Linked DNA regions of Homo sapiens: region 2 is linked to region 1. The links come from fine-mapping of genetic effects on gene expression. A gene starts in region 1. The other region holds a variant in brackets. All regions are shown on one strand. Distances are from middle to middle. Region 1 holds the start of LSM11 (LSM11, U7 small nuclear RNA associated). Region 2 overlaps LOC105377675 (a long non-coding RNA gene).

What was found. PIP is the estimated chance that this variant, and not a neighbour inherited with it, causes the effect. A credible set is the group of variants that fine-mapping cannot tell apart.
Region 2: its variant is the best candidate, but not a certain one, in a credible set for the expression of LSM11 in lymphoblastoid cells (GEUVADIS, PIP 0.72).

Annotation. Positions count from the first base shown.
Region 1 is chr5:157,739,670-157,748,009 of GRCh38, reverse strand. LSM11 (LSM11, U7 small nuclear RNA associated) reads right to left here and starts at 4,298. Exons shown (of 4, transcript NM_173491.4): 1 at 3,812-4,298. The coding sequence starts at 4,259. It overlaps THG1L (tRNA-histidine guanylyltransferase 1 like), which reads right to left. Exons shown (of 6, transcript NM_017872.5): 6 at 6,561-8,340. RefSeq lists an enhancer at 3,435-3,935 and a silencer at 3,955-4,514.
Region 2 is chr5:157,659,521-157,667,860 of GRCh38, reverse strand. LOC105377675 (a long non-coding RNA gene) reads right to left here. Exons shown (of 3, transcript XR_941127.3): 3 at 5,824-8,340. It also overlaps a transcript of SOX30 not described here. Among named protein-coding and RNA genes, the nearest start is that of C5orf52, 7.8 kb to the left of the region's middle. The variant C/G (reference allele first, on the strand shown) is at 3,910.

The DNA.
Region 1 (8,340 bases):
CACACACACACACACAGCAGTGTGGTGCAGAAATCATCTGAGACTATTCCTTAGTTGCACTGGAGACAGCTGACTGGAAACAGCTGCAATGAGCTGAGAAAAGTGACAAGGCTGAATTTTAAGCTTGGCCTTTTCTGAAGCCTAAGTACCGCTGTTCTCGGTTTTATGTAAGTCATACTCATGCCCTTTTGGCAACCTCTGTGTAACAGAGATGCTGTTCAAATTTGAGAGTTCATTTTACTGCTGTACACAGGGCTCAGATGTTCTTGATTTTGCCTATTTTCTTGCTCTTTATTTGCAGGAAGTGAAGTCAAAGTTATCCAAAGAATATCACTTTATTAAAATGAAAACATCAAGACACCATATTGTGGGAAATTATTTCAGCAATCAAAGTAAACTACAACAACAGGACTCAAACAAATTTTCAATCATGGTATCACGTCAGAGGCCCAATAAATCAGGTTTGTTTTGAAATCCTTCTCAGCAGGATGTGTGCGAGTAAAAGGACTGTGTAGGCTCCCTGCAGGAAAACTGAATTTGGAACTGGAGACAAGCCATTCACCTAGACAATGGTCTAGGAGCCAAACCCTGCATGTCATATGCATTTTGGATTGACCACACACACTTGTTCACACCGGCACAGGCTGCACACCAACACACCTGTAGCTAAAACAAAGTAATGATAACACTTTTTCTTACAGCTTTATAATGTCAAGACGTGAGCTTGAACACACCAGTTCATTTCACAGTGACAGATATACCTAGAAAAAGCTTGCTTGAAGCACAATTATAAACCAGAACCACCGTGGGCTAGGTATGGTGCTGCGATACTAAGGAGAAATATAGACACTAGAATTATGTGGAAAAGAGGATAATGCTCTTTAGTCTTGTCTTACCATCTCTATAGGCATGTCAATATTAAAAAGGAGGAAAAGCAATTGCATTCCACTTGCAAGTACAGCTTGTGTGTGAGTTCTTTGTTGGTATCAGTGATGGCTTAGGCTTAATGATGACGAAAAACCTTTCCTCCTATGCTTTTTTTCTTCTTTAGTATTCCCAGTATTGCAACAGCCTCCTATACTTTTATTATTACTTTTTTTTGAGACCTCGTATCACCTCTGTAGAGGTCTCTATGATGTCCCTATGATCTCGGCTCACTGCAGCTTCCACTTACAGGGTTCAAGCGATTCTCGTGCCTCATCCTCCTGAACAGCTGGAACTAGAGGCAGATGCTGCCATGCCCAACTAATTTTTGTATTTTTAGTAGAGACAGGGTTTCACCACGTTGGCCAGGCTGGTCTTGAACTCCTGGCCTCAAGTGTTCTGCCCGCCTCGGCCTCCCAAAGTGCTGGGATTACAGGTGTGAGCCACTGTGCCTGGCTACTTTTAAAATTTTATTACTGCAAGGAAAAGAATACAACTGCTCCACAAGGGAATTCAAAGAGATTCTATGACAGAGATACAAAGTGAAATATTTTACAGTTAAAACACCATTACACTTAATTTTGCACTCCTTGTTTTTTCATAAACATTCCACACTGTCCTCTCTGTGAATTTGGATGGGTAACTTGGATCTGAATTGATGAAATACATCATTTTAAAGTCAGCGACAAAATGTAGCTCCTCATGTATTCTTCATTATGTTTCACTGATGATATGACCTAACAAAGCTTCTTCTTGCTGTTACAGCCTGATGGAACTTACATTTTATGTGAATATTTTGCAAAGGATTATGCATTCTCAAATGCATAGGCATTTTTTTCCAGAAAGCATTTGTATATGTCCACAAATAGTATTATCTTACTGGTATCTATATTTTGATTTTCCTGAGCAACTGTATCCAATCAGAGTTTAGAGTAGGCATATATTTTTTTAAATTAAAACTGTGGCATACATATAAAACATACCTAGTTCTTTTTTTTCCCCCCTTCCAACTTTTGTTTTTGGATCAGGAGGTACACGAAAGGTTTGTTGCAGGTGTAAATCGTGTGTCACTGGGGTTTGGTGCACAAATTATTTTGTCACCCAGGTAGTGATCACAGTACCCAATAGGTAGTTTTGTGATTCTCACCCTCCTCCCACCCTTCACCCTCAAGTAGGAACTCTTTCTTGAATGAATCCAATCCTCACCCATGTTTCTGTTGTTTTCTTGCTTTCTGAAGGTCATCAACTCTGTGCGACGTCAATGCCTTTCTCTCATGTACACTCAACTGTCTGCAGTGCCATGGTGAAAATTTTCAGTATGTAGGGCATATTCTCTGAGATCTTGATTCCAGGGATATATACTTAATCATAAGAAGTTGACAAAGCTGGTCTTCACACACTGTCATACCATTACAGTAAAGTGCTCTATAGGGAAAGCTAAAACCACCCACCACATAGCAATACACAGGAATATTCCTTTCCCTTGACAATCTTGGTAGCAAAGCAATAACTGGTAAAATAGAAATAAATGTTGCAATGAGACTTGGAGTGCATTTCAACTACCTAATGGTGGCAAATTGCATAGGCAAATTAAGGTCCCCCAAACTGCTCTCATTTTGGGAACAAGCATACTGTCTTTGTGTTACAGCCAGGCAAGCAGGCCGGGGTAAATCCTAGCTTGGGCAGGGATGCTGTGGCATGGTAAGACATCCAACGAAGGCACACGGAACAGCACAGAGCGTTTCAGGATGTTCTCTCTTAATAAACAAATTTCTAGGAATGAAGCAAAACAGTCCCTTGCTTGGCACACCTCTCCATCCAAAAGACAGTGACTTAATAAGGTAACAATTTAATTATCAGGATACAGATGCTTTGAATGGCTAAGTAGGTCATTGTGTTCACAGGGCAGATGTCAGAACTGCTTGCCAGATGACAAAAGAGATAACCTTAGGCTGTTTTTATTCCATTTATACAAGACCTAACTCACACATTAGAGCCTCTGCTGTTTACAGCTTTACTCTAAGGATCTATGAGGAGGCTCCAAGAAATTCCCTTGTGCCATTTACACCTTTAGAACTTAAAATAACCTGCACATATGGTAATATGAGCCTGACAGACACAGTCCTGCACCCAGCCAGGCAGAGTGGCTGTAAAACAGCGTCTGTGTTTTAGTGGCATTCTGTGCCTGCTGCATTTCAGCACTTGTGACTTAGTAATGTGAACATATGTGTATCAAGACTCTGCAGCCCTTCTGCTTATCGCACTCGAGAAGGAGCTGTCAATGTACAGGGGTTATGGGATTATGCGCCTGTGCTATCTGAACAAATCTCCCCACACTCCATCCGATCATCCTCAAATCCCACTGACCAAATACTCTCCTTCCCCTAATATTGGCTGTGCGCTCCCCCACGTCTCCCGTTTTCCGCCCCACCTTACCTCTCACTGTGGTCTCTAAGACCTCTCATCACCTCTGTAGACGTCCCTATGATGTCCCCCAAACTCTGTAGCCCCGCCACCTCTCCAGGTCCTCCATCAATCCTGTAGACCCTCTCGGCAGGCTCATCACCTCTGTGACCCTTCCATGGGCCCCGATTACCGCTGAAGACCTTTCCCACGGCTTCTTATGACCACTACAGCCTTACCACTCTCCCTCTGTTGCTCCTACAGCCCCTTTTCTTACTCAGGGTGACCCTCCCCACGCCCTCATTACCCACATTACTCAAGCAGATCCACCCCATAGTCACTGATGATCCCCGCAAATTTTCACCAAGGCGCTCCCGCAATACGTGCAGACCCGCGCCCGGCCACCGCCGCCCCGCAGACGCCCCCTCGGCAGCCAGCTTCCGGACGGCGGCTGCCCCGCTTCCCGCCCGGCCCGCGGACTCACAGGGCATTCGCGTGAGCACGTTGCGTGGCGCCTTCCTGCTCCGACCCGGACCCCTCCGGCCCGCTCCTGCGGCCCCGTCCCCTTCCTCTTTGGCCACCATGAGACGGCGGAGGCGCTGGATGCGCTCGGGGTCCGGGGCGGGCGCGTCCGGGCGGCGACGAGTCCTGCCCGAGGGCCCGGGTGCGGCGGGAACCCCAGAGCCCGCGGCCGCGCCCCGAGCCCGCCCGCGCCCGCGCCCGCCGCCCCGGACTCCGGTCCTGAGGAAGCTCTCGTACTCCGCCACGTTGTTGAAGCAGGGGGCATTGGGGTAGGGAATGGGAGGCAGGCGGGGCGCGTACAGGGCCAGCAGCGGGTCGAAGCTGTCAGAGCTGACATCCAGCCGCGGGCTGGGCGGGCGCGCGGGGCTCCCGGCGCCAGCCGACCTCGCCCCCCGCTCCCGCTCCTCCATGTTTGAAAGGCCCGCAAGCCGAGGCCGATGGGAAGAAGGAACGAAGCCGCCAGAGGGCGGCACTGCGCAGCCGCGGCGCGGGGTTGCACTGCGCCGAAGCGGCCGCGGGAGGGCAGCACCTGTCCTCGTTCCACCCGGGCCGGGGGGCGTGGTACGCGGCTCCGACCAGCCCGCGCCTCGCACCGCCTCCTCCCATAGCTGACAGGTTAACGCTGTCGACTGCTGCTTGACCTGCTCCAGCGCAGTTTCCCCGTCTGTATCATTATCACTTAGGGTGTTTGTTAATACTCTGGGTTCCCCGGGAATGAGCTCGGGATCGCATCCTAGCTTGAGCTGGCAGGAAGCGTCTGGAGGAAGGCAATGAATGTCTCAGTTTGCTTCCATGCTGAGTACTACTGATAGGGTGGGAAGAATAGCCTATCTGGGCTCAAAGTATTTAGCGTGTTTCTCGTCTGAAATATGATATAAATAGCACCTACCTTATAGAACTGACCTCAGGATGGAGAGATACTGCCTACAGAGCTCATAATAGATGCATGTCAGCCAATACTGGGTGTCTGTCCTCCATTTCCTATACCCTGTGCATAAACAAATTTGTGCTTAGTATCAAAGAAAATTCATTATATCACTGTCTTTCTAAGCATTGCTAACCAATTGGAAGAAACGAAGATCCAGCTCTTGGAGGAAACTATGGAAAATTCCCAAGACCTGATCATACCACTTGCTACTTTATAGTCTCAGTTCGGCAAAATATTTTTTGGTTGATTTTAAAATGACAGTCTACTCTTCGCGGAAGGCCCAGATATAACCTTCTCATCCAGCAGAGCCAAAATGTTTCCACTCACCTACAGGCCACACATCACTTGCCCGTCACCACATTCTCAAACTGCCATCAACTAGTATTCTCTGTACTAGTTGCTTTGTGTACATTTCAGTTTCCTTAAGACTTAGGAAGTCCAAGAGAATACTGGAGAGTACCTTAGAGAGCAAGATGAAAATTAATATACAACTCTGAAATATACCTTGGGATGAATGCATACTACAGCGAAGACAAAACCATCAAGCAGGCCGGGCGCGGTGGCTCACGCCTGTAATCCCAGCACTTTGGGAGGCCGAGGCGGGTGGATCACGAGGTCAGGAGTTCAAGACCAGCCTGGCCAAGATGGTGAAACCCCGTCTCTACTAAAAATACAAAAAATTAGCCGGGCGTGGTGGCACGCGCCTGTAATCCCAGCTACGCTGGAGGCTGAGGCAGAGAATTGCTTAAACCTGGAGGGGCGGAGGTTGCAGTGAGCTGAGATCGCGCCACTGCACTCCAGCTGGGGTGACAGAGGGAGACTCCATCTCAAAAAAAAAAAAAAAACAAAAACCATCAAACAGTGGCTTCTAATTGGTAGCAGTACAGGTTTCTTTATGGCACAGGTTTTGAACCCAGCTTATCACTTTGTTCAAAACCCCCTGCCTGAATAAAAAACTCAAAGCTGCAGAATTGCTGGCAATTCAACAAATGAGCGCTCATCCCCACATCATATGGCAAAACTGAGTGATAGCCTTTATAGTGTCATTTAAGACCCACAGAAAGCACGTTTCTCTGGGTGGTTTTCTTGAAAATTTGTACTCTAATGCCTACTTGTATTTTGATATAAAATGCTGTCAACTTACCATTAAGTTAAAATTGCCAATCAACAGCTACATTATCTTACTTCCTTCCCACCCAGCCTATCACAGTATACCGAGGGCCTTGCTGCCGAAGCTGCTGTATATTGACAACCACACATATCAGAAGCCTTTGGGGCTAAAAATCAGATTGCTGGCTGGGCGTGATGGCTCACACCTGTAATCCCAGCACTTTGGGAGGCTGAAGCGGGCGGATCACGAGGTCAGCAGTTCGAGACCAGCCTGGCCAATGTAGTGAAAACCCCCGTCTCTACTAAAAATACAAAAATTAAGCCAGGCATGGTGGTGCGTGTCTGTAGTCCCAGCTACTCAGGAGGCTAAGGCAGGAGAATCACTTGAACCTGAGAGGCAGAGGTTGCAGTGAGCTGACAGAGCGAGACTCCATCTCAAAAAAAAAAAAAAAAAAAAAAAAGATTGTTGAGCTTCAAACCTTTCTGGGGGCTGGGAGGAGCCAAAAATGTGCATTTTAAACAAGCATTCCAAGTAATTTTTTTTTTTGCATCCAGAAGTTTGTGAACCACTGCTATGATGAGGGCATGTGTATCCTAGGCTACCCAGAGATATACACAAAAGTTAGATTTCATATAGTCTATTTGTCTAAGAAAAATAAATGAAAAAGCAGGCCAAAGGAGTTGACATCTTTATTTCTTTCCTCAAAGAGATTTTAGCAATTACCAAACAAGAACCGTATCTCCTCTTTCTGTGGAGTGAGAACAGGAAGGGAAAAAATGGCATCGACAGATGGGTTGTCAATTAGTGAGGGATGAGGCCAGCCATCACCCTTTCAAAAATACATTTTCTTCTTAGATGTAAATTCTGCAGTGCAAGACGAGGGACTGGGACACGGGCTGTCTCTTAATTTTTTTTTTTAAGGCAGTTTTGCTCTGTCACCCAGGCTGGAGTGCAGTGGCATGATTTCAGCTCACTGCAACCTCCACCTACCAGGTTCAAGCAATTATCCTGCTTCAGCCTTCTGAGTAGCTGGTATTGCAGGCACACGCCACCACGCCCAGCTAATTTTTCTATTTTTAGTACAGACTGGGTTTTGCCATGTTGGACGTGCTGGTCTTGGACTCCTGGCCTGAAGTGATCTACCTGCCTCAGCCCCCCAAAGTGCTGGGATTACAGGTGTGAGCCACCATGCCCAGCCATGTCTTTTTTTTTTTTTTTTGAGATGTAGTTTCGCTCGTTGCCCAGGCTGGAGTGCAATGGCACAATCTTGGCTCACCGCAACTTCCGCCTCCTGAGTTCAAATGATTCTCCTGCCTCAACCTCCCAAGTAGCTGGAATCACAGGCATGCACCACCATGCCCAGCTAATTTTTTGTATTTTTAGTAGAGACGGGGGTTTCTCCACGTTGGTCACGCTGGTCTCGAACTCCCGACCTCAGGTGATCTGCCTGCCTGGGCCTCCCAAGGTGCTGGGATTACAGACGTGAGCCACCGCACCCAGCCTCTTAATTCTTAATGGGGCCAAATAATCCTTTCCCTCCGAAATATAAAACCAGGACAAGAGAAAAATGTGAGTTCTCTCACCACCTATTCCCACTACCTTCCCCCTTCAGAGGCCAAGTTTGGCTGCATGTGATGATCCCTGCTGCTCTGTGCTGTTCCTCACCCATCTCCACTGACCCAACAGAAGGTGGCGCTATTAATATTATGCCTCCTCTGACACCTGCTACCTGTCGATTAGCAGAGGATGTTTACCCCTCTGCTCTTGAAATCAAATGTCATTTGTCTGATTACATAGAGGCTATGTGAGAATGTTTTTCAAGAAGTCTAATAGGAAAGTGACTTTTAAAACTGAAATGTCTTGAGTACATGGGGTAAATGTTTCTTCATCCTCATTCACGCATTCTTGTTTCTTTCTCTCATATATACACATAATTCTGTTTCTTCTTAGAAAGAGGTAAATGGCCTTGGCAACTATGCCCCTGGCTAGAAGATGATGATCATGCTGACAACTCCATTAAATCAATCCACAGAATGTGTACGCAAGGACACTGAAGCCACTACTCATTTGTTCAGCCAAAGTTGCCAACTTAGAGACTGGCACAAAGCCCCGAGTTTTCCCTGCAATTCCTGAATTCAGAGGCATCATGCAGGCATTAACCCATATTTATCTTGAGGTCTGCCAAAGACGAATGCAAGTAGATGGGTGGCAGAGGTGAGATTTTCAAAGTCAGTGGGTTTTCTGGTTAAGAACAGGTGGGCGAGAGTTTGGGCTCCTCTTCTCTCATAGATGAAAATAACTGACAGGTTTTTACAAGATTTATGTCACAATCTAAAAATGATTCATTCTCCAAGGCATGGAATAGTTCTTGCTTTATAAAAATAGTACTGCGATTAAAAAAAAAGCACTTCTGCCAAAGGAACCATGTTCCAACACCGCAAACAAGGTGTTC
Region 2 (8,340 bases), 80 kb after region 1:
TGTTCCAGGTCATGGAGAAATGTTGTAGAGGGAAGGAACAAAGTCTACTGTGCATCCAGCAAGGTTTGTATGTGTGTGTGTGTGTGTGTGTGTGTGTATGTATGTATGTATGTATGTATTCTGAGATGGAGTCTCGCTCTGTCGCCCAGGCTGGAGGGCAGTGGCATGATATCAGGTCACTGCAGCCTCTGCGACCTGGGTTCAAGTGGTTCTCCTGCCTCAGCCTCCAGAGTAAAGTAGCTGGGATTACAGGGGCCTGCCACCACATCCGGCTAATTTTTGTATTTTTAGAAGAGACAGGGTTTCACCATGTTGGCCAGGCTGTTCTCAAATTCCTGACCGCAGGTGATTCCGTCCGCCTTGGCCTCCCAAAGTGCTGGGATTACAGGCATGAACCACCATACCCAGCCTCAAGGTTTTTAAACTGGTTTTTCCAAGTACTCCAAAGCAGTACAATGCATTTGGTGGGGGAATGAAGGGAGGGGAAATGAAATGTATTTTCAACAAGAAATGAAGTTGTGTTCAAACATACTTAATCTCTTTAAGAGATAGTACTTTTCATCTGTCCACTGCCACCATCATAGAACTTCAGGCACAATGAATACTCCACAGAGATTTTCCAGTGACAAGCTGAGCTCATCTCTTTATTTCATAGGAGTCTGGGGCAGCAGTCAGGACTCCTACGTCCCATCCCTCCACTTCTTGGGTGAGCCTCTCCCTCATCCACATCTCCCTAACCCAGCCTGACTCTCCCTAATGGCCTATCCATCCCAGAGTGGGTGACAAGTTCTTCAGATACCTAGTGGAAGAGACACCTGGGTTGGAGTCCAGCTTTGATGTTAAAGAGTTGACCTTGGCCAGGCATGGTGGCTCATGCCTGTAATCCCAGCACTTTGGGAGGCCAAGGCAGGTGGATTACCTGAGGTCAGAAGTTGGAGACCAGCCTGGCCAACATGATGAAACCCCGTCCCTACTGAAAACACAAAAATTAGCCAGGTGTAGTGGTGCATGCCTGTAATCCCAACTATTTAGGAGGCTGAGGCGGGAGAATCGCTTGAACCCAGGAGGTGGAGGTTGCAGTTAGCTGAGATTGTGCCACTGCACTCCAGCCTGGGCGCCAGAGCCAGACTTCATCTCAAAACAAAACAAAAAACCTCATCCATAAAATGGGGCTAATAAAATTACCTATTCTGCTGTTGGGAGGATTCAATGAGATCATGTTTGAAAAGAGCTGGGCCTTATACCTGGCACATGAGTGCTCAATAAATGTTAATATGCTAACGATTTTGATGACCTGAATGGGATCCCAGCTGAGATTTCATTTGAACTGAGGTGTGTGTGTGTGTGTGTGTGTGTGTGTGTGTGTGTGTGTGTGTGTGTGTCTACTGGACTAAAGAATCTTTCATCTGGGCATAGTGGCTCACACCAATCCCAGCACTTTGGGAGGCTGAGAGGGGAGGATCTCTTGAGCCCAGGAGTTTGAGACCAGCTTGGGCAACATAGCCAGACCCTATCTCTACAAAAATACAAAAATTAGCCAGGCATGGTGGCATGTTCCTGTGGTCCCAGCTACTCTGGAGGCTGAGGTGGAGGTGGGAGGATCGCTTGTGCCCAGGAAGTCAAGAATACAGCGAGCCATGATTTTTCCACTGTGCTCCAGCTTGAGTGATAGAGTGAGACCCTGTCTCAAAAACAAACAAACAAACAAAAACAAAAAACAAAAACCTTTGGCCAATCTCCTTAGTTTCAAGATTCCATTTCTCCCACAATATCTTCCCATCCAATACCTCTCCATTCTTCACTCACTAATTTTTCTTTCTTTTAATCTTCTTCTCTCCCAATAACTAAGTGGCTTTCAGGAATTTCATTGCTTTGAAATTTGAGCCGAGATCAAATCACTGCACTCCAGCCTGTGTGACAGAGTGAGACTCCATCTAAGAAAAAAAAAAAAAAAAAAAAGGGAATATCCTGCAAGATGGTCAGTCAGACCAGGTTTTGCAACTTTGCAGTGACTCACTGTGTAATCTTAGTGAAGTTCCTCCATCTCTTTGGGTCTGAGTTTCCTGAACTATTAAATGGGGGTAATAATACACAATAGATGTCAAGTACCTAAAACACTTAAGGGCTCCATATAGTTTTATTTTTATTTATTTATTATAAATAAATTATAAATTATAATTATTTATATTTATTTAAATATTTATATATTTAAAATAAATGTATATTTAAAATATATATTTATTTTATTTTATTTTATTTTTTATTATACTTTAAGTTTTAGGGTACATGTGCACAATGTGCAGGTTTGTTACATATGTATACATGTGCCATGTTGGTGTGCTGCACCCATTAACTCGTCATTTAACATTAGGTATATCTCCTAAAGCTATCCCTCCCCGCTCTGCCAATCCCACAACAGGCCCCGGTGTGTGATGTTCCCCTTCCTGTGTCCATGTGTTCTCATTATTCAATTCCCACCTATGAGTGAAAACATGCGATGTTTGGTTTTTTGTCCTTGCCATAGTTTGCTGCGAATGATGGTTTCCAGCTTCATCCATGTCCCTACAAAGGACATGAACTCATCATTTTTTATGGCTGCATAGTATTCCATGGTATATATGTGCCACATTTTCTTAATCCAGTCTATCATTGATGGACATTTGGGTTGGTTCCAAGTCTTTGCTATTGTGAATAGTGCCACAATAAACATACGTGTGCATGTGTCTTTATAGCAGCATGATTTATAATCCTTTGGGTATATACCCAGTAATGGGATGGTTGGGTCAAATGGTATTTCTAGTTCTAGATCCTTGAGGAATTGTCACACTGTCTTCCACAATGGTTGAACTAGTTTACAGTCCCACCAACAGTGTAAAAGTGTTCCTATTTTTCCACCTCCTCTCCAGCACCTGTTGTTTCCTGACTTTTTAATGATCGCCATTCTAACTGGTGTGAGACGGTATCTCATTGCAGTTTTGATTTGCATTTCTCTGATGGCTAGTGATGATGAGCATTTTTTCATGTGTCTGTTGGCTGCATAACTGTCTTCTTTTGAGAAGGGTCTGTTCATATCCTTCACCCACTTTTTGATGGGGTTGATTTTTTCTTGTAAATTTGTTTAAGTTCTCTGTAGATTCTGGATATTAGGCCTTTGTCAGATGGGTAGATTGCAAACATTTTCTCCCATTCCGTAGGTTGCCTGTTCACTCTGATGGTAGTTTCTTTTGATGTGCAGAAGCTCTTTAGTTTAATTAGATCCCATTTGTCAATTTTGGCTTTTGTTGCCATTGCTTTTGGTGTTTTGGTGTTTAGACATGAAGTCCTTGCCCACGCCTATGTCCTGAATGGTACTGCCTAGGTTTTCTTCTAGGGTTTTTATGGTTTTAGGTGTAACATTTAAGTCTTTAATCCATCTTGAATTAATTTTTGTATAAGGTGTAAGGAAGGGATCCAGTTTCAGCTTTCTATCTATGGCTAGCCAGTTTTCCCAGCACCATTTATTAAATAGGGAATCCTTTCCCCATTTCTAGTTTTTGTCAGGTTTATCAAAGATCAGATGGTTGTAGATGTGTGGCATTATTTCTGAGGGCTCTGTTCTGTTCCATTGGTCTATATCTCTGGTTTGGTACCAGTATCATGCTGTTTTGGTTACTGTAGCCTTGTAGTATAGTTTGAAGTCAGGTAGCGTGATCCCTCCAGCTTTGTTCTTTTGGCTTAGGATTGTCTTGGCAATGCGGGCTCTTTTTTGGTTCCATATGAACTTTAGTTTTTTCCAATTCTGTGAAGAAAGTCATTGGTAGCTTGATGGGGATGGCATTGAATCTATAAATTACCTTGGGCAGTATGGCCATTTTCATGATATTGATTCTTCCTATCCATGAGCATGGAATGTTCTTTCATTTTTTTTGT[C/G]CTCTTTTATTTTGTTGAGCAGTGGTTTGTAGTTCTCCTTAAAGAGGTCCTTCACATCCCTTGTAAATTGGATCCCTAGGTATTTTATTCTCTTTGAAGCAATTGTGAATGGGAGTTCACTCATGATTTGGCTGTTTGTCTGTTATTGGTGTATAGGAATGCTCGTGATTTCTCAACATTGATTTTGTATCCTGAGACTTTGCTGAAGTTGCTTATCAACTTAAGGAGATTTTGGGCTGAGACAATGGGGTTTTCTAAATATACAATCATGTCATCTGCAAACAGGGACAATTTGACTTCCTCTTTTCCTAATTGAATACCCTTTATTTCTTTCTTCTGCCTGATTGCCCTGGCCAGAACTTCCAACACTATGTTGAATAGGAGTGGTGAGAGAGGGCATCCCTGTCTTGTGCCAGTTTTCAAAGGGAATGCTTCCAGTGTTTGCCCATTCAGTATGATATTGGCTGTGGGTTTGTCATAAATAGCTCTTACTATTTTGAGGTACATCCCATCAATACCAAATTTATTGAGAGTTTTTAGCATGAAGGGCTGTTGAATTTTGTCAGAGGCCTTTTCTGCATCTATTGAGATAATCATGTGGTTTTTGTCTTTGGCTCTGTTTATATGCTGGATTACGTTTATTGATTTGCATATGTTGAACCAGTCTTGCATCGCAGGGATGAAGCCCACTTGATCGTGGTGGATAAGCTTTTTGACGTGCTGCTGGATTCATTTTGCCAGTATTTTATTGAGGATTTTTGCATTGATGTTCATCAGGGATATTGGTCTAAAATTCTCTTTTTTTGTTGTGTCTCTGCCAGGCTTTGGTATCAGGATGATGCTGGCCTCATAAAATGAGTTAGGGAGGATTTCCTCTTTTTCCATTGATTGAAATAGTTTCAGAAGGAATGGTACCAGCTCCTCCTTGTACCTCTGGTAGAATTCGGCTGTGAATCCATCTGGTCCTACTTGGTTGGTAGGCTATTAATTATTGCCTCAATTTCAGAGCCTGTTATTGGTCTATTCAGGGATTCAACTTCTTCCTAAACATATTCTGAAGGCAATTGCTTGAAAAAGTTATTATCAGTAGAAAGGAATGTCTGGGTTATGATAAAGGGTTGTGAAGACCTAGGTTTTATCATGCAGACAAAGCCTCCAGCAGGCATTAGAGAGAAGACCATCAATGTTTCTTATCAGATATAAGGTTTGTGTTGGTTAATGCTGGAGGAGTGTAATGAGGCATGTCCAACCCCTACTTCCTTTCATGGCCTGAACCAGTCTTTCAGGGTAAGTTTTAGAGTTCCCTGGCTGAGGAGAAAGTCCAATCAGATTTTTGTGGGGGAGGCTTTTGAATTTTATTTGTGGTTTACACATCAAAGAAAAAACCTCCAGGGAAATTATAAAATATTTTCTACTGAATGACTGTAAAATCAGAGCATATCAAAATTAATGCAGGTAAAGCAATATTTAGAGAGAAATTTATAGCTTTAAAAATTAGAAAGGAAGACTTCAATAACCTAGAAAAATTAATTAAGCTTTCACCTTAAGAAACTACAAAAAGAAAAGCCAAAGTAGAATGAAGGACTAAAGACCACAGCAGAAATCAATAAAAAGAAAACAGCAAAACAATAGAGAAAATTAGTGAAACTTACAGTTAATTCCTTGAAAAGATCTACAAAATTGTTAACTTTTTAGTCAAATGACCAAGAAAAAAAGAGAGAAGACAGAAATTACCAAAATTGGGATTAAAAGAGGAAGCATTCTGAACCCTATGGAAATTAAAAGGCTTATAAAGGAATATTTTGAACAACCTTATGCCAACAATTTGTCAACTTAGATGAAATGGGCAAATTCATTAACAGAAATGATCAAAGTAGACTCAAAAAGAAATTATACAATTTGCATAGATATATATCAGTGAAAAACATTAAAGCGTTTAATTAAATTATTTTAGAATCTTCTTCAAAGCAAAGTCCAGGCCTCCATGGTTTTATTGGGAACTCTATTAACATTTAAATAATTAATAATACCAATCCAATGGAAATCTTTTCAAGAATAGAAGGGGACACTTTACAGCTCATTTTACCCTGATACTAAAAGCCACAGACAAAGATATCACAAGAAAATTATAGAACAACACTCGTCATGAATGTAAATGCTAAAATTGTTTAAATAACAACAAATTAGATCCAGTAATGTACAAAAAGGATTATACACTATTACCAAGTGTGGTCGATTTATTACAGGAATGTTCTTTAGCTTAACATCTGAGTATCAATTCATGTAATACATATATTAATAGAATAAATCAGTGGTCAGCAAACTATAGCCAAAAGCAAACTATAGCCCTTGGGCCAAATCTGGCATGACATTTGTTTTTGCAAATAAAGTTTACTGAAACAAAGCCAAGCCCATTCATTTGCATATTGTCTATGATTGCTTTCTGCTACAAAGCAGAGTTGATTGGTTGCAACAGAGCTCATATGGCTCACAAAACCAAAAATATTTACTATATAGCCTTTTCTGGAAAATGTTGCTGACCCTTAAAGGAAAAAGCCATATAATCATCTCAATAGACACAGACAAAGCATTTGATAAAATTGAACTACTATTCATGGTAGAATTCTCAATAAACTAGGAATAGAAGGAAACTTTCTTACTTTGATAAAAGGCAGCTACATAAACCTATGACTAACAACATGCTTAAAGGTGAATGACTGGATGCTTTCTTCCTAAGACTGGGTGCAAGGCAAAAGGATGTACACTCTCACCACTTCTATTTAACCTTGGACTAAAAGTTCCAGCCAGTGCAATAAGGTAAGAAAATAAAAATACAAAAATCAACATACAACCAACTGCAAAGGAAATTTTAAAAAATTACATTCACAAATAGCATAAAAAGAATAAAGGATTTAGAAATAAAGTTAATGAAAGAAGTACAGGACAGTACACTGAAAATTATAAAACATTGTCAAAGGAAATTAAGACCTAAATAAATGGAGATATGTCCCATGTTTGCAAATAGGAAAATACAGTATCATCAAGGTGTCAGTTTTCCCAAAATTGATCCATAGATTCAATATAATTTCTATCTAAATACCATTAGGGTTTGCTTTAAAAGAAATTGATATGATGAACCTAAAATTTATCTTTTAAATCCAAAGGACCAAGAAAAGCCAATATGATTTAATGAAAGAACAAAGTTCAAGGACTTACATGATTTCAAAATTTCAAAATTTACCATAAAGCTAGAGTAATCAAGACTGTGGTACTGGCATAAAAATATGTATATAGCTTGGCACGGTGACTCATGCCTATAATCCAGCCTGGGTAACAGAGTAAGAACCCCATTTGTAACAAAAGAAAAAAAAAGAGATACTGTAAACCAAAAATAAAATTCTAAATTCCCCAACCAATGAAATGGACCCCTCCTTTTGGCCAAGGGTATATTTTTTATATTTTATTATTTTATTTTATATTTTATTTTATTTTACTTTACTTTATTTTATTTTATTTTATTTTATATTTTTGAGACAGAGTCTCACTCTGTTGCCCAGGCTGGAGTGCACTGGTGCAGTCTCAGCTCACTGCAACCTCTGCTTCCTGAACTCAAGCAATTCTCCAGCCTCGGCCTCCCGAGTAGCTAGGACTACAGGCACAGGCCATCACACCTGGCTAATTTTTGTATTGTTTTGTAGAGACGAGATTTTGCCACGTTGCCCATGTCGGTCTAAAATTCTTGGACTCAAGCAATACTTTTGCCTCAGCCTTCCAAAGTGCTGGGAATGCAGGCATGAACAACTGCACCAGGCTAGGGCATTTTAAAGTAAACCTAAAACACTAGCTCAGGCTACAATGGGAATGGGTGGTCAGACATGCCTCATTAAACATTCCTCCCGTTGGAATTCAGGCACAGCTGACCAGCATTAACATAGAAACAGCGACTTTCAGACTGACAGAATAGACTTTTTAGGTCTGATATTCTCTGAAGCCTACTATCTGGAGGCTTTATCTGCATAATAAGAACCTTGGTATCCACAACCCCATATCTTAACCCAGACACTCCCTTCTGTTGATTCTAGGTCTTTAGATAAGTCTTTCAACCAATTGCCATTCAGAAAATCTTTGAATCCACCTGTGATCTGGAAGCCCTGATTTGAGTTGTCACACCTCTCTGGACTGAAGCTATGTACATCTTACAGTATTGAATGATGTCCTATGTCTCCCTAAAATGTATAAAAGCAAGCTGTAGCCTGACCACCTTGGTGACATGTTGTCAGGACTTCTTGAGGCTGTGTCACGGGGATGTCCTTAACCTTGGCAAAATAAACTTCTAAATTGATTAAGGCTTGCCTCAGATACTTTTGGTTTATAGTACATAGATGGAAGGAATGGAAGGAACAGAACAGAGAGTTCAGAAATACACCCATG